Linked DNA regions of Homo sapiens: all the other regions are linked to region 1. Evidence: fine-mapped expression QTL. A gene starts in region 1. Each other region holds a variant in brackets. All regions are shown on one strand. Distances are between the middles of the regions.

Evidence for each region. PIP is the estimated chance that this variant, and not a neighbour inherited with it, causes the effect. A credible set is the group of variants that fine-mapping cannot tell apart.
Region 2: its variant is the best candidate, but not a certain one, in a credible set for the expression of LMBR1 in whole blood (TOPMed, PIP 0.68).
Region 3: its variant is the best candidate, but not a certain one, in a credible set for the expression of LMBR1 in pancreas (GTEx, PIP 0.85).
Region 4: its variant is the best candidate, but not a certain one, in a credible set for the expression of LMBR1 in monocytes after Pam3CSK4 (Quach 2016, PIP 0.75).
Region 5: its variant is the best candidate, but not a certain one, in a credible set for the expression of LMBR1 in lung (TOPMed, PIP 0.82).
Region 6: its variant is the best candidate, but not a certain one, in a credible set for the expression of LMBR1 in whole blood (INTERVAL, PIP 0.75).
Region 7: its variant is the best candidate, but not a certain one, in a credible set for the expression of LMBR1 in whole blood (INTERVAL, PIP 0.86).

The regions. Positions count from the first base shown.
Region 1 is chr7:156,890,950-156,895,018 of GRCh38, forward strand. LMBR1 (limb development membrane protein 1) reads right to left here and starts at 2,234. Exons shown (of 17, transcript NM_022458.4): 1 at 1,979-2,234. The coding sequence starts at 2,044. It overlaps LOC102723795 (a long non-coding RNA gene), which reads left to right and starts at 2,449. Exons shown (of 4, transcript XR_928253.3): 1 at 2,449-2,714. RefSeq lists silencers at 1,326-1,825, 1,876-2,455.
Region 2 is chr7:156,678,212-156,682,280 of GRCh38, forward strand. It overlaps LMBR1 (limb development membrane protein 1), which reads right to left. Exons shown (of 17, transcript NM_022458.4): 17 at 1-4,069. Among named protein-coding and RNA genes, the nearest start is that of RNF32-AS1, 20 kb to the left of the region's middle. The variant C/G (reference allele first, on the strand shown) is at 1,589.
Region 3 is chr7:156,804,715-156,808,783 of GRCh38, forward strand. All of the region lies in intron 4 of LMBR1 (limb development membrane protein 1), which reads right to left. Among named protein-coding and RNA genes, the nearest start is that of LMBR1, 86 kb to the right of the region's middle. The variant C/T (reference allele first, on the strand shown) is at 2,271.
Region 4 is chr7:156,706,051-156,710,119 of GRCh38, forward strand. All of the region lies in intron 15 of LMBR1 (limb development membrane protein 1), which reads right to left. Among named protein-coding and RNA genes, the nearest start is that of RNF32-AS1, 48 kb to the left of the region's middle. The variant T/TA (reference allele first, on the strand shown) is at 1,984.
Region 5 is chr7:156,930,391-156,934,459 of GRCh38, forward strand. No RefSeq gene overlaps it. Among named protein-coding and RNA genes, the nearest start is that of NOM1, 17 kb to the right of the region's middle. The variant C/T (reference allele first, on the strand shown) is at 2,159.
Region 6 is chr7:156,825,498-156,829,566 of GRCh38, forward strand. It overlaps LMBR1 (limb development membrane protein 1), which reads right to left. Exons shown (of 17, transcript NM_022458.4): 4 at 1,108-1,247. Among named protein-coding and RNA genes, the nearest start is that of LMBR1, 66 kb to the right of the region's middle. The variant A/G (reference allele first, on the strand shown) is at 1,946.
Region 7 is chr7:156,776,010-156,780,078 of GRCh38, forward strand. The region is part of intron 5 of LMBR1 (limb development membrane protein 1); the gene reads right to left. Among named protein-coding and RNA genes, the nearest start is that of LMBR1, 120 kb to the right of the region's middle. The variant T/C (reference allele first, on the strand shown) is at 2,129.

The DNA.
Region 1 (4,069 bases):
GGAGGCCAAGGCAGGTGGATCACCTGAGGTCAGGAGTTCAAGGCCAGCCTGGCCAGCATGGAGAAACCCCGTCTCTAATAAAAATAGAAAAATTAGCTGGGTGTGGTGGTGTGTGCCTGTAATCCCAGCTATTCAGGAGGCTGAGGTAGGAGAATCACTTGAATCCCGGAGGCAGAGGTTGCAGTGAGCCGAGATTGTGCCACTGCACTCCAGCCTGGGAGACAGAGCGAGACTCCATCACAAAAAAAAAAAAAAAAAAAAAATATATATATATATATATATATACACACACACACACACACACACACACATATATACATACACATATATATACACATATATATATTCATAGCCAAAACCTAGAAACTACTGAAGTGCCCATCAACAGTAAAATGAAAAATAAATTGTGCTATAGTCACACAACTACTGCACCGAGAATGAATTATAACCACATACAACATGGAGAAATTTCACAAACATTGTACAAGAAACTGGACACAGAAGAGTATATACGGTAAGATTCCATTTACATAAAGTTCAAAACTAAGCAAAAACTAATCTATGATATTAGAAGCCAGGGCAACGTTTACCCTTGGTGGAGGAGAAAGTAATTGGAAGAGGGAAAGGAATCAGTCTCTGGGATCCTAGTAAAATTGTGTTTATTTATTTATTTTTTTATAATGGTAGAGATGGGGATTCACTATGTTGCCCAGGCTGACCAGTCTCAAACTCCTGGTGGATTCAGGAGTACACAGGCGTGTTTAGTATGAAATGATCTGAAGGGTACATGTATGATTACATGAACTTATCTCTGTGTATTTTAGCTTCAATTATAAAAATTACAACTAAATGTGTACCAAATTCCACTAACTCAAATTCCACCAGCTCAGACTTTATATGTCCTCTTTATTCAAAGTATGACTTCCAAAGTGATTCTCAATTTTCAAGATCAGTGAGTACACAAATTAGATAATTCTAAAGCAGAATTTTTTCACCTCAAACCAAGTGTGACTGAATCGTAGACAACTTAGGAGAGGCGTAAATATAAACATAAAAAATTGACATATTTTACAACAGTTATGAAAACACAGATAAACCCAATTACAATACATTCTAGAGCATCATGAAAAGATAAAAACATCAAAGTAGACTTTCCAAGGTCAAGTCCGCTTCCTGACTCCTGCCAACAGCACACATGGAACATGGGCCAAAAAAGAAGCTGCTTCCCTAAGAAGTTGCTTCCATAGCAAAATGGACTTTTGCTGAGGTCCTCACTCCCAAAAATAACCAATATTCTCATCCCAAACGGTAAGGTTTCGAACTCAACCCACGTGGGGGCTGGGGGAGATGAAAGAGGGATGGAAACGTGAGGCGCCAGGAGGGCAGGAGGTGTTGACCGGGACAAGGTAACCGGCCGGGTCCAAACGCGAGAGGCGGGCGGGCTCCGCGCAGCCCGGCCCTTCCCGGACCCGCCGGGCCCACCCAGGCTCTCCGGGACGCCTGCGCATCCACCTGCCTACCTGGCCTGGCGGCGGAGCGCGGGGGCGCGCACTGGCGGGGCCGCCGTCCACACCCCGAGGCGCGAGCCGCACACCCGCCCAGAGAGGAAGCCCCTGGGGTCCCAGAGCGCGGCGCGCACCGCAGCCCTCCCCGCGGGAAGGGAAGGGCAGCACCGAGGCCGCGGGGCGGGGGCGGGGTCGGGGCTCGAACGGAGGGAGCGCGAGGGGGCAGGGGAGGCAAGAGCGGAGCGGGGGGGCAGGCAGAGGAAGCGAAGGGGAGGGGAGGGGAGAGGAGAGGTGGGGAGGGAAGGGGAGGGGAGGGGAGAGGAGGGGTGGGGAGGGAGAGCGGCAGAGGCCGGGGCGGGAGGCGCGAGGCGAGGCCCGGAGGTGAGGGGTCCGGGGACCGGGGGCCCGGGGGCGGGGACGGAGGGCCCGGGCGGGCACGCGGGACTGTCAGGGCTGCCTCGGTCCCCACGCACCGTGGACTCCCGCACTTGGCTGTGGAAGTGCTGCTCCCGCGCCGACACCTCGTCCTGCCCTTCCATCCTCCTTCATGCCCGCCGCCGCGCCGCCCGCGTCCGCGTGCTCCGCCACACCATCGTCCGCCCGCCGCAGGGGCTCGGACAGCCGCGCCGGGGACCGGAGCCGGCACGGGCCCGCGAGCCGTGTTGGAACAGGTACCGCGACCACGACACCGGCCGTCGCCTCAGCAGCCTCAGACGAGCAGCTCTGACTAAGGGAGGGCGGGCGCCGCGCAGTCGGGGGCGGGGCGGGGGCGGGGCAGGGAGGGGAGGGGGCGGTGCAGGCATACGTCAGACGAAAGGCGCCGATGCGTCAGAAAAGCGCGCCTCGCGGTCTTCCGAGCTGCTGGGCCGGGAGGCGCTGAGGGGGCGGGGCCTTGAGGTCGCGGGGCGGGGCTCCGCCCACGCTCTCAGGGGCTACCCCAGTTAAGGAGGCGCTGTCCTGGCGTCGGATGGGGACGGGGAACGCGGCGAGGGCGCTGCGACCTCTGCCCACCTGGCCCGGCCGCAGTCTCGGAGTTCCTGTTCCTCACAGGAGCTAATTATTTATGACAGCTGCATGGTTCCCCTCCCCCAGTTACTCAGTGCTTGGCACTCGGCACCCCTTACTCAGCACTCAGTACCGCACTCGGCCTCAGGGGACCTGGGCAGAGGGAAGCAGGGAGTCTCCCGCGGAAACTCTTGCTCTGCCAAAGTAGGTTGAAAGGTCGGAAATCGGTGGTTTGGGGCCGGGCTTTGGGCGGAAACCCAGCTTCTCTGGGTCTGAGAAGGGTCTTGGGCTGCCCCACCTGGAAAACGCAGATAACCGAGCTCGCTAGACCCTTGCCAAGTCCTTCCGGTAGCTCGGTCACTAGGGTCAGTTTTATGACTCTCAGTGGACCCTAAACAGCACGTAATATATGTATTTTTCACCGCCAAATATATCAAACACAATAATTCACCCTCCGTTCCCTATTATCTTTCTTTTTGTTATAAAATTTGAATTTAAGGGAATGTTTATAATTTTACCTTAGGATTTATTTGGCTACGAGGAAGTCATTTAAATTGCTAGTGGCTGCGATTTTTGTTTTTGGCATCTTTGAGAATTCTTAGGAAGTGTGAAAATCTACAAATTGCTTTCAAATGTCATTTAGTTTTTGTTTTTGTTTTTTTTTTTTTTGAGACAGAGTTTCACTCTTGTCGCCCAGGCTGGAGTGCAATGGCGATCTCTGCTCACAACAACCTCTGCCTCTTGGGTTCAAGTGATTCTCCTGCCTCAGCCTCCCGAGTAGCTGGGATTACAGGCGCCCGCCACCACGCCCAGCTAATTTTTGTATTTTTAGTAGAGACGGGGTTTCACCACGTTGGCCAAGCTGTTCTTGAACTCCTGACCTCAGGTGATCCGCCCACCTCGTCCTCCCAAAGTGCTGGGATTACAGGCCTGAGCCACCGCGCCCGGCCGTTGTTTAGATTTTTATGAATCTAAATTTAACAGTCAATGAAGTTGTTGTAAAGTTCTTCAAAGACAAATATGTGGTAATTTAAACCTTGCCGTTTCTCTTCACAATTTTGAGTAGAGAAAATTTTTTCACAACTCAAACTTCTTATGGTGCTTGGCGAAGTTGGAGGCCCCGACACACGGTTTCTATGAGTTCACTATAGCTGAACATTGTGGTGGTGGGAGAACTTAGAGAACCTGAGGCTTGTTCTCAGCATGTGCCCTGCTGCCACAGGCTGATTGATCATAATCCAAGAACAACTGTCAACTGGTTAAATTCAACGTTCACCTTTATTTTTTAGAATGTCTTGGAGCCCTAAAGAACCTGGATAATTTCTGGGTTAATTCTCTCCAAATCAGAGGGCAAGCAGATTAGATTTTAAAGTGTATGGCATTTAAACACAGATTCCAGAAAGTGAATGCATGTAGTATTCCTCATCTTTTTAATGCAATACTCCAACCATCTAGACCTTTTGATTTTCTTTTATGCAATCATCCCTAGAGGTTTACCCACCACTGGTACTTGTAACACTTAACCCAGGGTAGTCAACTTCAACAATGGCCACGTACTC
Region 2 (4,069 bases), 210 kb before region 1:
GACACAGGAACTAGTGTTAGTTGCAGGCAACAGATACTTAGGAAAATCGGTGGGATGAAAGGCAGGAATGGTCATCTAACTTCACTGAGGATGAGGGTCGCGAAAATCCCATGAGTTCTGAGGAATGGTCCAGGGCAGCCTGTGACAGTTAACAGAAAATCAGGCAATTTTCTTACTGAAAAGTGGCCATGGAATGGCGCGCCCATCGAAAGCTTGCGAGACCAAGTTGCAACCACAGAACGCTAAAAAGGACCTGAATGAAGTAGCTACTTCTCTGGACAATTTGAAGATAACGCCACATTGTCAGGTCAAGTCAGGAAAACAGTGCAAGCTTTTATACAATTACTCCACAGCCTCATCAGGTCTCTTCTATAAAAACTGGGACACTGACCAAGAAAGAGTGGGGCCTTTGGAAACATGAGTTCATGGGAGGACTCAGCGGACAGGGAGAGCCCTGTCTGCTGCCCTCATTGTGTCTTCCTGGTCAGCTACAGCAGTCCCTACGGGATGTGGCCATTCCTCCCTTATTTTAACAGGTTGGAACCCACTTGTCTGACAGTCACCTTGCAAGATGAAGCCACTTCTTGTGCCTTCTCACACATCCCTTTTTGCCTTTAAATCCACTTAATTAGGAGCCTACCATTCCATGGGCGGGGGGAATCATTAAATCACTATCAAGTCCAGAAAGAGAATTCTTAGCGAATTGTGGGACTGGAGGCATTTGATAAGAATAAAGGTTATAATCTAGAATGAGGATACCTGTCATGAATCTTTATCAACCAGATAATAGAACTGTAAGGTACATGAATGAACAAGAAACTGAAAACCTAAAACAAAGAAAAAATGAGACTGCGGTTGTACTGGCCTGTATTTACATCCAGTTCATCTGCCCACTGTAAGCGTGACCCCAGGCAAATGTCTGCAGCTTTCTCAGTGGCGTTCCTTGTCGGTAAAATGCAGATGTGTATTTTCGGCTTCGCAAGGTGGTCCTGGGGGTGACTGTGGGACGACAAAGAACTCGACCCTCCACACCACGCCCCAGGCCCCTCTCACCACCCCTGCTTCCAAGTCTTTGATGAGATTCCACAGTAAAGACTAAAAAGAAAAGAAAAAGTGAATCACTCTTCAGACTGAAGGATAGCCAGGCCAGAGAGGTGGCGAGGAGGAAGTGAGCAGGAGGAGGACGATGCTCCACTTGTCACTTAGTTCTCTGACTCTACTGTGGAGTCCATATAGAACAACTGTGGATGACTTCAAGATGCTGTTAAAGAGAAGTTGCAGAATCAATATAAATAGCTACAGCAGTATCAAATATGCTTGGTTCTGAAGTGTCAGTGTTTGTAAGCGGCATCGTTCATTCAGTAACAGCTTTTCAAAGGAAAGGAAAGGAGAAGACATTACAACAGCCACAAAACAGTTTTAGTAACTGTTAAAACTTCAGTTCTCAGACCCATAGCCCACACGTGACTCTCCACCTCCTCACACTCAGACACAACAGATTCTTCTACATCACTCTAGTCCTCCACAACCACTCACATCAGGGCCGCCCTGCTGTTCATAATCCAGGCTCATAAACTTGACTTCTGTA[C/G]CACCTTTAGAAGTAACAGCAGAACACCAAATCCATATCCAAGAATAATGAGGTTTTGTGTGAAGTTCCTATTTGATTATAGTTAACCTTGAAAAAATTTTTTCCTAATTAAAGAACACAGAATTGGAAGTTAAATAACTTCTCTTGAAAAGGTAAGTTTATTGCCTAATATTCCTTCAAGACATATGGATCAATCACCAAGTTTTGAAATTTTGTATATATTTGTGAGTTTTAGGAACTTCTCCTGATATTACATTTTCTACAGTGCAACAAGTAATTTGCGTACACAGTACTTTTGCTTCAGTTGTGTTTGCAGCAATAATTTTTACCTAAACAATATTCAAAAACCAAAAAAAAAAAAAACTCCAAAAAGGTCTTTGTATTATTTCTTCTTTTAAACCACATTCCAAAGGGATGCTTTTCAAACTGAAGTCTGCCATCTATTAGGAGGCCACAAAGTAACTTAGTGTCTGTGTCTAGTATTTTTAAAAATAATAAAACAGAAGATGCCAGCATGCACACTTAGGAAAAACAAGTACTGTCTTGTTAAATTTTTGCTTATACGTATCTGAGAGACAGAGAGAGAGAGAGAGAGAGAGAGAGAGTGTGTGTGTGTGTGTGTGTGTAATGGGTTATTTCTTACTGTGGTCAAAAAGTTGAAAGCCACTGTAAGTAGGCTTCTGTCTGCCAGTAAATTAACCAGATGCTAACAGCATTTATTCTTCCAGGAACTCTGGGTTAAGCTGTCCAGACCACAAGTAGGTGCTGTTCAGTCCTTTTATGGAAAAAATTAGAGAAATCAAGTCTAAATAATTCAAGTAATTAAATAAAATACATGCTATCAATTATTGATGCTACATTGTGGGTTATAAGAAATTGATCTACCAATAACTGCACAACAGAGAAAGAAAATATCCATTTCTTAATTCAACATTCATCAGAATAATTACTGCCCTCTATAAAACTGAAATGGAATTAAACTATAAATACCCTTAAGTTTTAGCCATGATAATATTTAAGATGGAAAAAACAAAAGAACAAATAAACCCCACATATAAATGCTTATAAACCAAATATGAAATCACTTTTTGTACAACTTTTAATTTCTAAGACATTTAAAAAGTCACACTAAAAGTATCTCATAGAAACAAAGACTAACAATTTGTAAACAAAACAATCTGTAAACAAAAATCAATTACTAGTGTGTCCAAATGTTATTTTTAAAAGTTAACATTATACCAGTTTTTTCAAGTTTAAAAAGTCGGTGCTGCATCTATGTTCACATTAAAAAAAAAAACTTGTAAGAATTCTGCCTTTATGCATTAAATAACGTGCTACCAACAAAACTAGCACATAAGAGCCTGTAAATGATGAAAACCTGTGTCCCTGGCAGACGAGGTCATCACTGAGGCTGCAGGGAGGGCCATGGGCACCCAGCAGATGGGGAGGCCGCACTGCCGCTGAGAGCAGGTACACGTGCGCCTTTAACACATCTGAGAGCAAAACGCGAGAGGCTCCGTCCATCTCTACTAACCAGCACCTTAGTGCAGCAATTTAAGGAGCTAACATTAGTGTGTATGTGTGTACAAATTTCATGTAAAGCCTCATATTTAGAGGTCTATTTTTACAGAGAATGTACATAAAGCTACGTAAATAGTAAATCTAAGAAGTATCTTGGAAAATCAGTAAAAATTAATACAAATGTTATAATCTGAAAACTTATAATTGTAAAATAATTTATTTAAGTATTGCAGAACCAATTAATAAGAATCTGCAAGTTTTCCCCAAGAAACTCTGGAACCATAGTGCCTAATGCCCTTTAAAATCGATACTAAAGGAGAGAGAATAAAAGGACTGCTTGATGTGACAGTCACTGGTGCATCCCTATCCAGTCAGAAACAAAACTGTAGCTCCAGAATTGACCTGATGATGAGCATCTGCAGCTCTGCCTTCCAGGGTCTATCTCCTCTCTTTCACTGGCGTGCAGGAACTGCAGTAAAATGAGGACCCCCAGAGCGACTGTCCTTACCAGGACTCAGAACGTTTGGCCTCCGTATTCTGGCATCCATTTCTGGAGTTCGTCATATAAAGCAGCCTCCGACCTAGCTCCAATGGAAGCACCTGCATTTGGAGTCAGTCTCTCCAGAGGCAGATGCTTGGGCATGTGCTCAGGAAGAGCCTCGAGGAACCGTGATTACGCAGCAGCCCAAGGCTGTAACAATCTATTTGTTCTCAAGGCATATGAGTCCCAGGTTCGAAGCCGTCCTTCCACCCCATGCATATCCTTTGCTTCAACAGCAGTGAGGATGCCTCCAGGAAGTGTATTGTACTCAGGGCTTACAAATCCAAAACTGGCTTAAGTCCTCGGATGGAGAGAAACTTCCAAATGAACAAAAAGTTGAGCTAAACACTGAAAAGTTTAGTATTTTACTTAAAAATTTTCAGACATTTTCCAAGTATCTAGGAACTCTTTGGATGTGC
Region 3 (4,069 bases), 86 kb before region 1:
GACAAGTTCTTTATGGGCTCTGAATACAACTCCTTTATAAGGTATGTGATTTGTCAATATTTTCTCCCAGTCTGTAGACTCTCTTTATTCTCTTAACAGTATCTTTAAAGAACAAAATTTATTAGAAGTCCAATTTATCCATTTTTTTCTTTTATGGATTGTGCTTTCGCTATCCTACCTAAAAAATTATGGCCTAGTTCAATGTTACAAAGACTTTCTCCTACATTTTCTTCTACAAGTTTCATAGTTTTAGGATTTACATTTAAGTCGATGATCCCTTGAGTTACAGTTTGCGAATGGTGCCAGGTATGGACTGAAGTTCATTTTTTGCCTATAATTAAAAAATTGTTCTAGCACCATTTGTTTAAAAAAAAATCATCTTCCCACTAAATTCCCTTGGCACCTTTGTCAAAAATCAATTGACAATATATGTATGTATCTAATCCTGGACAGTCTATTCTGCTGATTTGATCTGTTTATCTTTATGCTAACATCATGCACTTTTTTTTTTTTTTTTTTTTGAGACAAAGTCTTGCTCTGTCATCCAGGCTGGAGTGCAGTGGCACGTCTCGGCTCACTGCAACCTCCGCCTCCCAGGTTCAAGCGATTCTCCTGCCTCAGACTCCCAAGTAGCTGGGATTACAGGTGCATGCACCACACCAGGCTAATTTTTGTATTTTTAGTAGACACAGGGTTTCACCATGTTGGTCAGGCTTGTCTCGAACTCCTGACCTCAAGTGATCTGCCTGCCTTGGCCTCCCAAAGCGCTGGGATTACAGGCATAAGCCACCGTGCCCAGCCACACCACACAGTCTTGATTACTGTAGCTTTAAAAGAGTCTTTAGGTCAGATGGTCAATCCTCTAACTTTGTTATCTTTCAAAGTTGTTTAGGCTATTCTAAGTCCATAGAATTTGCATCCGAATTTTAGATCAGCTTGTCAATTTCTACAAAGTATGCTGGAATCTTGACAGGCATGGTGTTGAATCTCTATCAATTTGAAGAGAGCTGACCTCTTAATATTGCTGTTACAGACTGAATGCTTCTGTCCCCACCCCCAAATTCATAACTGAAACCCTAATCCTCAGTGTGATGGTCGTTAGAGACAGGAGCCCTTGGGGGTAGTTAGGTCACAAGAGGGCAATCCTCATGATGGGATGGTGCCCCTATAGGAGGAGACAGAAGAGAGTTTGCTTTCTCTGTCTCTGCTCTCAGCCATGGAAGGATGCGAGGAGACAACCATCCGTGAGCCAAGAATAGGGTCCTCATCAAGAACCCAACCATGGTGGCACCCTGATATGGGACTTTCAGCCTCCAGAACTGTAAAAAATATTTGTTTTGTATTGTAAGCCACCCAGTCTATGGTATTGTTATAGCAGCCCAAACTGATAAAGTGTCTTCGAATCCATGAACACAGTATCTGTCTCCACTTATTGTGGTACTCTTTAATTTCTCTCAACAATGTCTTAGTTTATAGTACTTAGGTCTCACGCATCCCTAAGTATTTCGTATTTTTGATGCTATTGCATATAAGTGATATTGGGTTGTAAATTCAATTTCCAATTATTAACTGCCAGTATATAGAAATATAATTGTTGTATATTGATCTTCTATCCTGCAGCCTTGAAGAATTTACTTACTGGTTCCAATAGCTTTTTTATAACAGATCCCATCAGAATTTCCGCATAGAAAATATCATCTGTGAAATAGTTTTACTGTTTCCTTTCCAACTTCAGTGACTTATTTTTTTTAAAAAAAACCTCCAGAATGATGTTACATAGAAGTGGTAAGAACAGATGTCCTTGCCTTGTTCCTGATCTCAGGGGGAAAGCATCCAGTCTTTCACCATTAAGTATGATGTTATCAGTAGGTTTTTTGTAGATGCTTTTTTTTTTTTTTTTTTTTTTTTTTTTTGAGACGGAGTCTCACTCTGTCGCCCAGGCTGGAGTGCAGTGGTGCGATTTCTCAGCTCACTGCAACCTCCACCTCCCAGGTTCAAGCAATTCTCCTGTCTCAGCCTCCCGAATAGCTGGGACTACAGGTGCACACCACCATGCCCAGTTAAGTTTTATATTTTTAGTAGGGACAGGGTTTCACCACATTGGTCAGACTGGTCTCGAACTCCTGACCTCAGGTGATCCACCCGCCTCAGCCTCCCAAAGTGCTGGGATTACAGGCGTGAGCCACTACGCCCAGCCTGATGCATTTTATTAGGATGAGAACATCCCATTTCAGGCCTACTTTGCTGAGAGATTTTACCAGAAATGGATA[C/T]TGAATTTTGTCATATGCTTTTTCTGCATGTATTGTTACGACCATATGACTTTTTTTTTTCTAGCACGTTAATAAAATCACATGGATTGGCATTGCAAAAGTCATGATGTATTATCATTTTTATACAGTGTTACATTTGATTCGCTAAAATTGTATTTAGAACTTAAGCATCTATGTTCGTGACACTGGCCTGTCATGAAACTTTCAGTTTTCATGTATTGTCTGCCTGGTTTTGGTATGAGGGTAATGCTGACCTCAGTGAATTAGGAAATGTTCCCACATCTTCAATTTTCTAGAAGAATCTGTGCAGAACTGCTATTATTTCTTCCTTAACTATATGATAGAACTGACAGTAAATCCTCCTGGCCTAAAGCTTTATTTGTGAGAATGTTTCTAACATTCCCAGAATATTTGAGAAGGCTTTAATAGTTTTTGCCTGTTAAGGAAATTTGTCCATTTCTCTAAGTTGTTGAATTTGTTGGATAAAGGTGTTCATAATATGCAATTATTATCCTTTTAATCACTGTTCAATATGTAGTGATGTCACCTCTCTCATTCCTAATACTGGCAATTGGTCTCTTCTTTTTTGCTGATCATTCTGGCATTGTTTATCAATTTCAGTGTTCTTCTTGGTGATTTCCTGTTTTCTATTTCATTGATTTCCTCTCTCAAGATTTTTAAAGAAAGATTTCCCTTCTTTGGGATCTATTCGTTGACTCTGCAGAAACTGATTTGAGGCCTTTTTTCTGTTGTAATACAGGTATTTCGTGCTATACATTGACCTTTAAAAACTTTTTAGACACATCCCGCAAATATTAAAATGTTTTATTTTCATTTCATTCAGTTCAAAGCACTTTCAAATTTCCCTTTTGATTATTCTTTGACCAGTGAGTTATTGTAAAGTATGTTATCAATTACCAAATACTCAGGGATCTTCTAGATTGTTTCTAGGTAAGTTTTCTGACACTTATTTAATTTCATTGTCCTTACAGAGTGTATCTTGTATGACTTAAAATCCTAAAATGTATTGAGACTTATTTTATGGCAAAGAATGTGATCTCTCTTGGTAAATGCCCACATTGTACTGGAAAAGAATATGTATTCTATTCTTGGATGTTCTATAAATGTTAATTAGGTCAAGTCAGTTGATAGTATTATTCAAATCTTCTATATCGTGATTTTTTCTTCTATATGTTCTATCAATTATTGAAAGAAGGGTGTTGAAATATCTGAATGTAATTGTGATTCTGACTACACTTTCCGTTTTTGCTTCATGTACTTAATATATGTCATTAGGCAGATATATGCTAAGTATCATTAGGCTCTTTGGGTGAACAAACCACTTCAACATGATGAAATGATCTTCTTTATGACTGGTAATATTCTTTGCCCTTGTCTGATAATCATATAGCCACTCCAACTTTGCTCTGTTTAAAATTAGCATGGTGTATCTTTTTTCTCCTACTGCCATTGACCTAGTTTTGTCTTTACAGTGGGTATCCTGCAAGCAGATATACTTCAGTCTTGCTTTTATATTCAATTTGATAATCTCTGCCTTTTAGTTGTAGTGTTTAGAACATTACATTTAAAGTGATTATTGATATAGTTAGCTTTAAATCTATCAACTTGCTTTTTGTTTTCTATTTGCCCCATGTGTTAGCTTCCCTTCTTCTATGTTCCCACAGATTAAGTATTTTTTATGATTCTAGTTTATTTCCTTTGTTTACTTATTCACTATATCTCTGTTGGGCTATTTCTGGTTTGTCTTCAGGTTTATCATATACGCCTTTAACTCATCA
Region 4 (4,069 bases), 180 kb before region 1:
GAAGACACAGCCTCAAAGTAAAGATATTCCACACAAACAAAAAAACAAACAAGACCAGGAGTAGTTATACTGACACCAGATAAAACAGACTTTAAATCAAAAACAGTTAAAAAAAAAAAAAGACAACAAAGGTCATTATATAATGATAAAGGGACCTATTCAGCAAGAGGATATAACAATACATCCAAATATACATGCAGCCAACAGCACCAAGATTCATAAAACAAATATTACTACAGCTAAAGAAAGAGGCAGACAGCAATGAAATAATGGTGGTGGACTTCAACACCCTATTCATAGCTTATCGAGAAAAAAAATCAGCAAAGAAACACTGTACTTGGTGCAACGGACCTAAAACACATTTACAGAATATTCTGCTCAACTGCAGAATTTATGTTCTACTCATCAGCACATAAAACGTTCTCCAAGATAAACCATATGTTAAAACACAAAACAAGTCTCAACAAATTTTTAAAAATCAAAAATTTTCATGCATCAATATCACGAAATCAATACCAAGAAGAATTTCAGAAAACATACAAGTACACAGAAATTAACAACATGCCTCTGAATGACCATTGGGTCAAAGAATAAATTAAGTCAGAAATTAAAAAAAAAATTTTTGAAACAAATGAAAATGGAAACACAACATACTGAAACTTGCGAGATACAGCAAAAACAGTGCTAGGAGGGAAGTTTATGACATCAAGTGACTACATGAAAGATACTGAAAGATACAAATTAACAACCTAATGTCATACCTCAAGGAACTACAAAAGTAACAAACCAAATCCAAAATCAGTAGAAGAAAAGAAATAACAAAGATCAGAGCAGAACCAAAAAAAAAACAATAAAATAAAAACCAAAAAACAGTACAAAGGATCAGGAAAATGAAAAGTTGGTTCTTCGAGAAAATAAATAAAACTGATAAACCAATTGCTAGAGTAACAAGGGAAAAAAAAGAGACAACACAAAGAAAATCAGAAATGAAAAAGTAAACATTACAACCGATACCACAGAAATACAAAAGATCATCAGAGAATATTATAAACAACTATACATTCACAAAATAGAAAACCTAGAGGAAATGGATAAATTACTGGCTAGAAACATACAACCTCTCAAGATTGAACCGGGAAGAAATAAAAAACCCGAGCAGGCCAATGATGAGTAGCAAGATTGAATCCATTAAAAAAATCTCTCAACAAAGAAAAGCCCAGGACCAGATGGATTCACAGCTGAATTCTACCAAATGTACAAAGAAGAACTAATACCAATCCTCCTGAAACTGTTCCCAAAAACTGAGGCGGAGGGAATTCTTCCTAAGTCATTCTATGAGGCCCAAATCACTCTGATACCCAAACAGACAAGTACACTACAGACCAATATCCCTGATAAACACAGATGCAAAAACTCTCAATGAAATATTAGCAAACTGAATCCAACAGCACATCAAAAAGATAATACACCATGATCAGGCAGGTTTTATACCAGGAGTGTAAGGATGGTTCAACATACACAGTCAGTAAATGTGATATATCACACTGACAGAATTAAGGGCAAAAACCACATGATCATCTCCAAAGATGCAGAAAAAGCATGTGATAACTTCAGCATCCCTTCATGACGAAAGCCCTCCACAGATTAAGCATGCAAAGAGCATACTTCAAAATAATAAAGATCATATACAACAGTACCACAGCCAAAAATCATAAGAACTGGAAAAAGACAAGGATGTCAATTTTCACCACTCCTATTCAACAGAGTACTGACAGTTCTAGCCAGAACAATCAGGCAAGAGAAAGAAACAAAAGGCACCCAAATTGGTAAAGAGGAGGTTAAGTTATCCCTGTTCGTTCATGATATGATCTTATCTCTAGAAAAACCTAATGGATCCCCCCACAAAAAAGCTCTTGGATTTGATAAATTCAGTAAAGTTTCAGAATACAAAATCAATGTACAAAAACCAGTTGCATTTCTATA[T/TA]AAAAAAAAAAAAAAACTACTATCTAGCTGAGAAGGAAATCAAGAAGGCAATCCCATTTACAATAGCCAGAAAAAAAAAATTGGAGGAAGACGGCAGACAGGAGGCAGGACTAATGTGCAGTTCCCACTTGGAAGGACAGAACAGTGCGCGGAGACTCACACCATCAACTTTTGCTCCAAGAACCATTGTAGGATGTACCAGGAAAACAAAGAATTCACGAATCCTTTGAAAGAAGCAGCATATCATTGCAAATTCCATGAGACACAGGCAAAAAACTGAGTTCCCAGTGTGTGAGGTGGGGAAAACCTTCCTCTGAACACACATCCTCACTGTGGTAGCTGAAAATCCAGATAATGGGAAAAGGATTTAACCTTACTTAGAGTTGAAATAGATTCAGGGAGCCACACAAAAAATAAAAGCAGCATCAGTGGCAGGAAGAGCCCTGTAGGCTCTCCCAGTCTCCAGCTCAAGCCCAGGGAAGCCATCCCTGACTATATCTCACAGGGGACCTTGGGGAAGGCAGCCAGTGGAATTAGGGTGGGGTTACAGGATGAAAGAAGCTTCCAACTGAAATTTGTAATAACTTTGGGCACAAATTTTCTTGAGCAGAATTTCTTGAGCAAATTTTCTTGAGCAGAATCTGGTAGGGGGGCAGGGTGCAAATGGGAACTGCTGCAGATAAGAGCACAGAAGCCACCACGGACAGTGTGGGCAGATGGGGAAGGGCAAAGCCTGAAAGCCATGCTTGCTTTCTCAGCGGGGAAGCTTACGGCCTGGGACAAGGTCTGCGGCAGGGACTGCAGAAGAGAGACCAGCCTTGCCAACTGTGTGGGAGCTGGATGAGGCCTTTCACTACTGGCTCTCCCCAACTTCCCTGGCAAACTATATAACACAGCACAGGTGGCCAAGATCCCCTCTGGAACAAAACCCCATTGGCCTGAGAACCACCCCCCAACAACCACGGTGGCTGCAGCAAGCCCTGCCCAGGGAGAATCAGAACCCAGACCCACCTGACCTTGCCCCCAGCTGATGGTATTTCTCTACCTACCCTGGCAGCTGAACACAAAAGACATAAAGTCTAGGGAGCTTTATGGCCCCACCCATCACCTGAGAAACCAGAATACTTACCTTGGCCAACTTGGGGCAAGCTTAGATACCTCTACTACTATGGCAGCTGGAACTCTCTTGAAAGTGAGGCCAACCAACTGGCCAACCACATCAGGCCATTACAGCAACTCATGACAGAATAACCCTGCTCCCAGGAAGGAGAAAACAAAAGCTAATTCCACTGCCTGCAACATCCTGGCTAACCAGAGGTCCTGAGTCTGTCCACATGACACTTTCACTCCTGGCATAACCAGCATTTGAGAAAGCCAGCATACTAAACATACCTACAACCAGGAACTCTCACAGAGTCTCCATCACTCCCCTGCCAACTCCACCAAAGCAGATGCTGGTATCCACAGCTGGGAGACCCGAAGACAGACCACATCACAAGACTCTTTGCAGGCATTCCCCCGCACCATCCCAGAGCCTGGTAGCCCTGCTGGGTGGTTAAGCCCAGAAGAACAATAACAATCACTGCAGGCTGGCTCTCAGGAAGCCCCATCCCTAGGTGAAGGGGGAGAACACTGTATCAAGGGATCACCCAGTGGAACAAAAGAATCTGAACAGCAGGCCTTGGGTTCCAGACCTTCCCAATGAACTAGTCTACCCAAATGAAAAGGAACCAGAAAAGTAATTCTGGCAATATAAAAAACCGGGTTCTATAACACTCCCAGAAGATCACACTAGCTCCCTAGCAATGGATCCAAACCAAGAAGAAATCTCTGAATTGCCAGTTAAAGAATTCAGAAGGTTGATTTTTTTTTTTTTTTTTTTTTTTTTTGAGATGGAGTCTCACTCTGTCACCCAGGCTGGAGTGCAGTGGCGCGATCTTGGCTCACTGCAAGCTCCACCTCCCGGGTTCACGCCATTCTCCTGCCTCAATCTCCTGAGTAGCTGGGACTACAGGCGCCCGCCACCATGCCCGGCTAATTTTGTGTATTTTTTAGTAGAGACGGGGTTTCACCATGTCAGCCAGGA
Region 5 (4,069 bases), 39 kb after region 1:
CGCACCCAGCCTAAATGCATTTTTAAAGTGTTATCTGTAAAACATCATACAGTTAAAAATGACTTTTTTAGATGACAGTTCTATGAACTCTAACACGTGTACAGATATGCGGAACCACAGCCACTGTCAGAACAATTGTACTCCAAAACAAGAAAACGGGCTGGGTGCAGTGGCTCATGCCTGTAATCCTAGCCCTTTGGAAGGCCAAGGCAGGAAGATCACCTGAGGTGAGGAGTTTGAGACCAGCCTGGTCAACATGGTGAAACCCCATCTCTACTAAAAATACAAAAATTAGCCGGGCATGATGGCAGGCGCCTGTAATCCCAGCTACTCGGTAGGTTGAGGCAGGAGAATCGCTTGAACCTGGGAGAAGGAGGTTGCAGTGAGTGGAGATCGTGCCAATGCACTCCAGCCTGGACGACAAGAGCAAAACTCCATCTCAAACAAAACAAAACAACAATCAGTTTGTGCAGTTTACAGCCTCTCCATCACAATGCTCTCCAACATCCATGAGAAGGTTTAATAACTTTAAAAGCAAAAGCCCTGTTTTTAAATTCTTGAGAAGCAAACTAGTTTTTTGGTTTTCTATCTGGTACCCTCCAAAATATAAACCCATTAAGTGTAGCTTCCAAGTAACCTGACCTCAAGCAATCCTCCTACCTCAGCCTCCCAAAGTGCTTGGATTACAGGCGTGCGCCACCTCGCCTGGCCAGTACTTCTTGACATTACCAACATCGTGAGTTCAGCCCTTAAACAGGGTTGCTTTGTATGATCAATTAGATGCCAGGACTGGTCTGACAAGAATACCTATTTTGATGTTGGTTGGCATAACTAATACTTTGCTGTTTCTGTTGACAATGGTTGACCGGTAGGTTTAGTTGCTCTTTGAGGCCTGCTGAGAACTCAGCCATGGCCCTGTATCATCAAGATGGAGGATCATCTCTTGCTTATTTAATTTTAGAGGCCATAGGACCAGATTGGCAAAGAACCATTCCAAAATCTTTAGCTGTATAGGCTGAGTAGGTCAGAGCCATCTTAACATAGTTAAACATGCCGTTTGATGTCAGAAGGCTATTCCTACCCACTCTGATTTTCTTGGTGACATTATGATAAAGGCGAAAGGTACATTAAAAGCTTTGGATCTATACTGGGGTCGTAAAATGTCACCCATAGACAGTTCCTGTCTAGGGATTCATTTGCCAGACAGATCAATAAATGCTGTGAAAAGTTCTACAATAAGTATTCCCAACCAGCTGTTCTGCAAAGCACCCGTGAGTGTACGCTAGTGAAACAGTAAAATGTTTCTGTAATTTCAGTATCAAATATATAATTTACTCAAATAGAATAAATTGGTTTTCAGGAAACTTAATTGAGAAACGGTGTGTTAGACTTGCCTTGTTTTCTAGGATAAAATCCTGATAATTACCACTGCCTGAGAGCCAACCCCAGAGAGGCGGATGCTGGAGATTTTACTCCTCAGTGTGGGGGTTAAAACTTGCTATGTAGTGATGGTACAGTGTCTGTCATTGAGAAATGCCTTTATTATGGCAAAAATCCAGGTATTTCCAACTCACCAGGAAGAAGACAAAATAAGCAAATGTATCTTGGTAGATGTTTACTCTTTGAATGTCAATAAGAATTTCACTCTGAAAGACAGCAGGTTTCCATTGTCCTCAGACAGGCAGCAGACAGCTGGGTCAGGAGCCGTGCTAACAAGTGAACCCAAGGTGAGGGAACTTTCAGATCCACACTCAATCTCTCCAACAGGAAGCATCGCTTTCCTGGCAACGGAAAGATTAATCATACATTGCACCAGGGAGAGACGAAGCTTGGTAATGTGAGACTGTGATTTACAATGATCTCCTGATTTATTGTTGTGTATTTTTAAGCCATATTATTTAAAATGCAGCTAATTTAAAAGCTAGTGTTCAGCACCGCGTGACTGCTGCTAAAGATCTACTCTCTGCTGATAAGAGAAGCACCGTGTTCTGTCCACTTACTCCCAGGTCCCCACAGCAGATCCAACCTCTAACAAAATCGCCTGTCAGGCGACGAATGTTGCTTTTCTTTGGGAAGTTATTATTTCTGTCTTTTTGTGTGTGTTTCCAATGCAGTTTATTTTTATTTTTATTCTTTATTTCTTAATTTTTTTTTGAGG[C/T]GGAGTCTCACTCTATTGCCCAGGCTGGAGTGTAATGGCACAATCAGCTCACTGCAACCTCCACCTCCCGGGTTCAAGAGATTCTCCCACCTCAGCCTCCCGAGTAGCTGGGATTACAGGCGCCCACCACCATGCCCAGCTAATTTTTGTATTTTTAGTAGAGACGGGGTTTCACCATGTTGGCCAGGCTGGTCTGGAACTACTGACCTCAGGTGATCCGCCCACCTCGGCCTCCCAAAGTGCTGGGATTACAGGTGTGAGCCACAGCGCCTGGCCTATTTCTTCCTGTTTTTTTTTTTTTTTTTTAGAGACAGGGTATCTGTCTGTCACCTAGGCTGGAGTGCAGAGGTGCGATCATAGCTCACCGTAGCCTCAGACTCCTGGGCTCAAGTGATCCTTCCAACTCAGCCTCCTGAGTAGCTGGAACTACAAGCCTGTGCCACAATGCCTGGCTTCAAATGCAGTTTAAATATTACAGAAGCCCACATAAGGACAGTACTTAATACTAACAAACAGCCTTGCTGGATGAATACAGTGATATATATTTTTAGTTTTACTTTAATTATTCTTCATCATTCGACTTCAAACATGTATTTTTAAAGGGGCCCTTTTGTAACCAGCATAACTGACACCACTTGTGTTACATGAAGCTCTTGCAGATGGTTCCCTTTAGTCCTAGCTTAGTTCCACAGATGGGCAATTCAGCCAACACCCTCATTTCATGGGTGAGGAAACTGACGTGTCCCAAGCCACACAACAGCCTTTGCTGCACTGCATTCCTGGTTAGGTGGGCACTTACTGAGTCTACCATTTGCAGAATCTGCAACTCTACTTCTATGCCACACCAATTGCTGCCTTCTGGGATTTGGGAGGCATTGAATGAGTGGATTTTTTTTCAAGCTTAGGATAGTGCTTGTCTTATGGTAAACACACAATAAATGTTATATCCTTATGATGACTGCTACGGAACAATTAAAATCTATCCGACTTCATTATGTGCTAAATATGGTTACTACGAGACAACAGACTGTGCAACACTAAACGCGGTACTGCATGTAAATAATGTTTTGAAAGGACCTGTCAAACTTTTTCCCCAAAATTTACAATGTTGCAATGCAAATAATTAAAATGAAAAATAGACACGATTTCCCATGTGAACCTTGACATCCCCAACTTGAGCAATTTTTTTACTTTTTTTTTTTTTTTTTTGAGACTAAGTCTTGCTCTGTCACCCAGGCTGGAGTGCAGTGGTGGGATCTTGGCTCACTGCAACCTCCGCCTCCCGGGTTCAAGCAATTCTCGAGCCTCAGCCTCCCAAGTAGGTGGGATTACAGGCACCCGCCACCATGCGTGGCTAATTTTTGTATTTTTAGTAGAGAGGGGTTTTCACCATGTTGGCCAGGCTGGTCTCGAACTCCTGACCTCAGACAATCCGCCCGCCTTGGCCTCCCAAAGTGCTGGGATTACAGGCATGAGCCACCGCGCCTGGCCTTTTGTACAAATTTAAAACATCTCCAATCAACGGACAACCGCGTGTTTTCTGAAGGCCCTTATGCCAGGCCCTGAAAAGATAATTTCCAACCTTAGGGAGATCGAGAATGGGGAAGAAAAGACTCCAGGGCAATTTTCTTCAGGGCAATTTTTTTTTTTTTTTTTGAGACAGCATTTTGCTGTTGTCACCCAGGCTGGAGTGCAATGGCACCAGCTCGGCTCACTGCAACCTCCACCTCCCAGGTTCAAGCGATTCTCCTGCCTCAGCCTCCCAAGTAGCTGGGATTATAGGCGCCTGCCACCATGTCCAGCTAATTTTTGTATTTTTAATACAGACGGGGTTTCACCATGTTGGCCAAGCTGGTCTCAATCTCCTGGCCTCATGATCCACCCGCCTCAGCCTCCCAAAGTGCTGGGATG
Region 6 (4,069 bases), 65 kb before region 1:
AGTCTTTTGCATTGCATGCCTTTAATATATACACCAACTATGTACTCACAAAAATTAAAATTAAAACATTAAAAAATAAAAATAAATTAGAACTCAAAAAAGAATTATGCCAGCATGTTCTATGAGAGACAAGAGTTCAGTTTACATACACTAAATTGATTTGTAAAAACAGTAAGATTCTTCAGAAAGAAAACACCTCACAGCCTAAATAACTATCATAATAGCTACCACCTATTAAGTGCCTACTAAAAGACAATTACTTTACATACATCATTCCTATTGCAAAAACAAGCTGGGTTTTATTTATCATCCCAACTAAGACAACAGGAAGCCGCGGTGAGAGGACAGTGGCTTTCCCAAAGACTACAAAGCAATACACCATGATATCTATTTGTACTTGACATAGAGTGTTTTTCCCCTTCTATATTTTGAAATGACTAAAGAAACTACTAGCAAATAAATAAAATAGAAACTATAGCTGCTGTTTTTTAGTTCTTTTGAGATGGAGTTTCACTCTTCTTGCCCAGGCCAGAGGGCAATGGTGCGATCACGGCTCACTGCAATCTCCACCTCCCAGGTTCAAGTGATTCTCCTGCCTCAGCCTCCCAAGTAGCTGGGATTATAAGCGCGTGCCACCATGCCTGGCTAATTTTTATATTTTTAGTAGAGACAGGGTTTCTCCATGTTGGCCAGGCTGGTCTCGAACTCCTGACCTCAGGTGATCCACCCACCTCGACCTCTCAAAGTGCTGGGATTACAAGCATGAGCCACCACGCCCGGCCAGTTTTCTAGTTCTTAAATGGAGGTTGAGTTCTTCTGACATAGTCAGATAAACCAAAATACTCTAGCTAAATACTGAAATGAAAATGTATTTATCAAAATCATAAGTATAAACACTGCTTCTTAACTAAGAGAAAAGTCTTTCACAACTAATTAAACATAGAAATGATAAGTAAAATCTGGTTTTCTGACATTATTAAAGACCCAAATCGTTTACTGGAGGAAGTCACAAATTATGAAGAAAACTGAGAAAAGAAAAATCTAAAAATATGGTGCAGTAAAAAATTAAAATATTAATTGTGATTATATTAAGCAATATATACTAACCATGAATCAGGGAGCCATTTAGCCACTGAATATAGTAGTTCTGAGGAAAAGAAAGCAGGATTTCATTGCTGATGATTGAGAAGGGTAAAAGCAAAACAGCCCCAGCTGACACTGCGAGAGTGAACGTGCTCAAAAACAACCTGGAAGAAAGGAGAGTCACCATCACAAGTGATCTGAAAAAGCAATGAACACGAAAGTCATCAAAAAGAATGCAAACTCTTTAATGTTTTAATCAAAAAAGCATTATATTAAGAACTTTATTAAATATATGTAGTTGGGAGACAAATGATATACATATGGGCCTAGAAGTTAAACTAGATAAACTCTAAAACTCCTTACTCTATGAAAAGGTCAGTAAGTCTAACAAATAGTACCTAAAAGATAAAGACATACTGAAGACACAGTACTTCACATATTTTACAAAGAAAAAATTGTAGTTCATTCCTCTTTTAAATGTAAGTATTTATTTCACAATTGCATTTAATTAACAACTTTGACAACATATGCTAACAGCAATGCAACAACTGAGGTGAAAAAATTACTATGAAAGCAGTATAAAAAAACAAATTAATTTAAAATGTTTATTTCAGAGGAAAAAAAACTTAGAAAGCCATTGGCCTGACATCTTTTTAATGGGTAAAGATTAAATAAATTATAGTAATAAAAAACAGAAAACTATTAAACAGTATTGTACTATTAATATTTAAAACACTACTTTGTCATAAAAAAGATAGCTTTAATAGGTACTAATATGGAAGAATATCTAAAATAAGTCAACAAAATAATGAAGAAAAGCATGGACAATAAATGTAAAACATGTTCTCCCCCCACCAAATGC[A/G]TATTTATACAGAGGTACAAAAAAATCCAGCATAACATGTAACAATCCCATAGGAAAGAGGGATTATAAGGTGCTTTCACCTTCTCAGTTACACATTTCTGAAACATTTTTATTTTCTACAAGAAACACCTAACTTTTTAAAAGATTTTAAAAGGATAAATTGGCAAAGGAAAAAAGAACTTCACTAATATTAGAGATAGAATGGATATTAAAGTTCTATTAAAGTTAATATTGGAAGAAAGTAAAAATAAATATAAGAAAATATTTTTTAAAAGCAGGAAAAAAAAATACTAAATACCCAAAAACACATCTAACAGAGAAACTTTGAGGCCAATGCCATCTTGTGGCAACCAACAGAAGTGTATTCCTACTTCAAAAGCCAAAAATAACCAGGAAACCTCCTTGGTTTAGTAAATCAATTATAAATTTTAAAATACAGACCATATGATACTTAAGAAAAATACAACTGATATCAGATACAGAATTTCTGTGAATTCATTTTGCTCAATAGACACCGCATTTCCTGGGAAAAGCCCTCAGACAAGTGCTGTCTCAGGTCCGCAGCCAGCTCTGGCAGCGACCAGCCAGCAAGCGGTCTCCAGCAAGCTTCTCCAGTCATGGGAGGAAGCTATCCTGATTGCTATCATTCCTTCCTATGCTAAAATTGAGATCAAATCCAAAATCTCACCATTCCAGGTCCCACACGGCTATCCCAAGATAATTTTCCAGGCTCTTCTCTCACTATGACCCATTTCGACATACACTTAGACTTACCTAACCCCCTCATAGCCCAAACATGAAATGGATTTTCAGGGTTCCTTCTTGCCCCTCTGCACAGTCTACTCACTCCCTAGAATACCCTCTAAGTTGCATGGCAAACTCATACATGAATTTCAAGACAGACCCTAAACATCATTTGCCCTGTGAAGCATTCCTCAACTTCACCTTCTGAAATGGAGCATTATTTTTAAAAATTACATCTTCAGAGTAATGCATCTTTTCTAATTGTGGTAGTAAGACAAGTGTTTCCCCAAATATCTGACATTTGTGACTAGGTCCTCAATCCAACCAGGAAGACAGAACCTTTGTCTAAATAAAATAAGGTGATGAGGGCATACACTCAGATGCTGAATATAACTAGTCACTGAATATAACTAGTGTAAAAAAAAGCCATATCTACAGATCATATTGTAAAGTGTCTTTGCAAGGTGATGATAATTAAAACAATAAAACCACCTTAAATCACTTTAACACTCCACAAAGCTTTCACATACTTTCAGTTAGCAAACAAGGACCAGGATCCTTGATTTATGAGTCTCTCATCTCCTGTTCTTAACCCCCATCATCAGTGATGTGGGATATGATGAGGTTTCTCTTCGAATAATCTGATCAATCTTTTACTCTTTAATTCATGGTGCCCCACCCAAATTTTCCCTTTTCCTCCTTTTTCCTTTTTGCCTTTGTTAGATGCCCAGGCACACCACAGTACCAGGCGTTATCAGTACCAGCTCACATTCCTTATTTGGAAAGAGAACTTTCTAGCTCATTAGACGCCCCTTTCCCTTTCCTCTCCGCTTTTACGTGCCTACCTTATCTAAAAAAAATCAAACGTTTAGCCAACTGGGATTAGATTGTACAATCCGACCCCAGCCAACGGGGAAAGCATACAGGGGCAGGACTTGCGTCAGGAATAAAGGCTCTCGTGCCCCTTTATTCAGGTGTGCTCTCATGGCGACTGGCCAAGGAGACACCCCTCTGCGCAGAAGTAAAATTGCTTTACTAAGAATTCTTTGTTTGAGCGTTCAATTTCCTTAGGATTTTCAGTGTTATTCCTAACAGTGATATGGTTTGGATATCTGTCCCCTCCAAATATCATGCTGAAATGTGATCCCCCAGTGTTGGAGGTGGGGCCTCATGGGAGGTACTGGATCGTAGGAGCAGACAGACCCTACAGTAATGAGTGAGTTCTCATTCTGTTAGTTCACAAGAGAGCTGGTTGTTTAAAGGAACCTGGCACCTTCTCTTCAATCCTGATCTCCCTTCACCTTGCACCATGAGTAAACGCTTCCTGCGGCCTCACCAGAAGCCAAGCAGATGGCAGTGTCATGCTTGTACATCTGCAGA
Region 7 (4,069 bases), 110 kb before region 1:
ATAGGGTTGTTATAAAGATCGAATGAGTATTATATATATATGAGTTATATATATTATATATGTAAATTATACATATTTTATACATTTTTATATATGTAAATTATATATATTTTATATATATATATGCTTAGGACAATATCTGGTTCTTAGTAAACACAATGTAATGGTTCACTATAATGACTCAAACTATTACCTTTGTCTCTGAAATTTCCAAGGCTTGGGAGTTCACATATCATTTGTGTTTCTAAATTAAATGTATGCCACCTTCTAATGCCATCCTATCACTCTCTTCCCAACTTTGTTCCCGACCATCTACAAACCTATAAGAAGCAGTCCCATCTTTCTCCATGATATGAGCACCTGGTTCACAAGTACTTCTTATCACATCCCCTGCCCTCGTAAGTAACATCCTAGCTCATCACCTCAATTCCAGTGAGATTCATTCCCATTCTACAGTAGCCACCCACACATGCATTGATCCTATTCCACCATCTCTCAGGATCACCTCTAAGAACTCCAACTTTGAAACTGCCCTCTTAGTCCACAATTTCCTGTCTTTTCTTGTCCCCTCAGTGCCCTAGCCTAGCTCTGCCTCCACATCCTCAGAACCTTCACTCCCTTGTTCCCTCCTAATCCTTCCAACCAGTCTTCTCTTCCCTGGCCTCAACCCCATGGTTCACTAGTGAATTTTGATGATGAGCCAGTATCAACAATATTCTGGAGCTCCCTGAACCTTTGGCTTCCACCAGGCCAGCTTCAACAATCCCCTGGCGCCTACTCCTTGATTCCCAGCCCTGTCAAAAAAACTTTGTATTATACAATCATGAGAAAGTTTTACTACGACATTCCAAAGTGGGCCTTCAATGCTACTTGGCAATCTTTATACTGATCTCTGGCTGACTTTAGCAATTTTCACAACTTTTTTTTTTTTTTTTGGTTTTGAGATGGAATCTCGCCTGTCGCCCAGGCTGGAGCGCAGTGGCACGATCTCGGCTCACCGCAAGCTCCGCTTCCTGGGTTCACGCCACTCTCCCGCCTCAGCCTCCTGAGTAGTTGGGACTACAGGCGCCAGCCACCACGCCCAGCTAATATTATCTCTGTATTTTTAGTAGAGATGGGGTTTCACGGTGTTAACCAGGATGGTCTCGATCTCCTGACCTCATGATCTGCCCACCTCAGCCTCCCAAAGTGCTGGGATTACAGGCATCAGTCACCACGCCTGGCCTTTCACAACATTTTTTAAAATGTTTTCCTTTCTTTTTTATCTATAATCTCATCCTCTACTTCCTTCCAACTACAATTGACTTTCCTCTACCTCAGTAGGACACAGCTGAGTGGGGTCTGTGAGTCCCTCACCTTCCCTCCTCTACACCTTAGCTACTGTTTCCATTTCTAATTCTTTCGTTCTATAAAAGAAAATACCTTGAATCCCTTTTCTCCTGTGGCCCAATCTCAGATGTTCATCTTCTCACATGTCATATCAGTGCTTCTCAAATGTCAACCTGCATCATAATTACCAAGGGGCCTGCCAGTTCCTGAGCATCAACCACAAAGTGGTGACTCAGTTGATTCTGATGAAGACGGTTCACAGATATACTGCTCAGTTTTTACCTAAGTGATCTTGCCTCTTCCAATAGCCAACAACTCTGAAGTTTATATCTTTAGTCCAAATCTTACTGCTGTGGCCAAGAACCATATACACCAACTGCCGTCTTTCATTAGACATCTCACCAGTACCTTAAACTTAATTCTAAGACCAAACTCATCATTTTATTCTCTATCTCTGCTCCTCCTTCAATATCACATACCTGAAAACATGACATCATTACCCACTTTGTTGTTTATGCCAGATACTTTGGAAACACCCTTGTCACCTACCTTTCCTGCTGAACCCCATACCCTACCCCCACCATACACCCTGAGCCTCGGTCCAGTCAAACACCAAGTGCTTCTGATTCTACTGTGTAATTACAACTCAAATTCATCCCTTCTTTTCCTACTGCCACCATACCCATCCAAGACGATGATTTTTCTATTATAGGTACACAAATAATAACAAGAACTGTCTGAAATACATACTCACATGTTTAAGCAGTCCATTCAGAAACATTTAGCCAAAAGAACTCTC[T/C]GTAGTCAATCATATAAATTGTTCAAAAAGTTATTTCAAATTAGTCAATATTTCTTTTGAAAGTCAGTAAATAACTCACAAAAAGAAATCTGCTCATTTCTAGTTATCGATCTACATTACAAGAGTAAATCAACAATACTAATAGAAAAGGCTGCCACGGTACAAGCCATCAAAATTATTTAATATGATTATGCTTGTCCTATGAAATATTAAGATAACTGATATAGTAAGAAAGAGCTGTTATTCTGACTTAATCCACTGGGAGGCTAGGATAGTTAAGTTTTCCCTTTTGTTAATTTTATTTTCTTTCTGTGATTAAATGAGACAAAACCTGTCCAACTTAAAATCAATTAAATACCACATGCGTGAGCTTTACATAAACCTTTTAAAAAGATAAATATGTTCATTAAATGCAAGGTGGCAAATTTTTTACCTTCAAAAACTTTGAGCTAGAGAGAAGAGAGATGATGAGACTATAGTCAGAAATTTCATTTGTTAATTCAGCTTCCACTAGTAAATATACAAGTACTCAAAATCTATAAGCTGTTATCACTATCTTTCTTGAGATCATAAAAATATTACCAAGCTTCAAGAACACAGCCTTTATGGCATGCCATGTGTGAGATTGTTAGACTTTTGGATGCCATTCTGACTACAAAGTAATGAAAAGCATTGTGAGCACTTTTATCACCACCATTAATCACCAGCAGCACAGCATATAAGCAAAAAATATGCCGACTGCTCATTTTTCCATTAAGGGTCAGAATCAGGAGCTAGAAAGCCCCGAGGGGAAGCTTCCTATCAACTCCATTCTTGCATATACTGAGCTAAAAGATGTACCAGATGTCAGAATAACTTATTAAAATGCGCTTCAAACAACAAAGTGGCAAAACACTGTAAACAAGGAAGAAGGTCTTCATTGTTCCTCTAGTGAAAAAAGTCTCCTGAATACAAGATCACAGGACTATAAGAACTTCTATTTATTAATCAATAACTGTACTTCCTTCACCTAGTTTTGAATGCTTAGATTATGTCATATATCACCAGGATTTCATGAACTTCACAATATTTTTATTTCCCAGTATGAACACTTATCCTGCCATCCCCCACAAAAAAACCCGTTAAGTTTAAATTACTTTAGCGAAACTCCTTCCTTCTGATTAAAATTGCAGTATAATAAGCAGTCAGTATATTAGAAACACCACTGAAATTAAGTACTTTTCTGCCAATGAAACATGAGTTGTTTTGAGTAAGCTATAGAATTAATCACGTTATTTCATACCAGCATTTTTTGAAATTACAACAACCTCAATATTATAAAAGGTTAAATTCGATGAAATAGATTAGTAAAGACTAAACACTTGTAGACACACAGATTTCTTTTAGATTTAAATGGGAACTAAATGGATAGTCTACTACACTCAAATGGTTATGATATAATTGCTTCTTGGAATTTTTGTGCTGGTCAATTATACATTTAATTCACATCAATGAAGTGAAAATTACAATGTACTTACAAAAGCTCTATGGAGAAGCTGTCATGTTTCTATGGTGATGAACATTTAAACAAGGTTTTGCCTGGACATCTTGCCCTCCTGTAAGGGATGTAAAAACCACTTCATACACTATGTCTCTACCCATTAGGAAGCCTGGGAAAACTTCTACATTCACAGAACATTTAAAATAAATATCAAGCTATTGTTTTCACTTAACAAAAAGGGTCTCTCAGTAACATTAAAATAAGGTTTGCTCAGCATGGCATCAAGATTGCACCAAACATATACACAGTCATCAGGGGAAGATCGGTAGAAGTACTAATAAAGAACAGAAAATAAAAGCAGGTATTAATTATTTTATTTTAAGCCATGAAAAAACTACAAATAAGCATCTCTAGAGAGTGTCAAACATTTCTCCCTTTGCTCCCAAGTAATCATTAAGAGC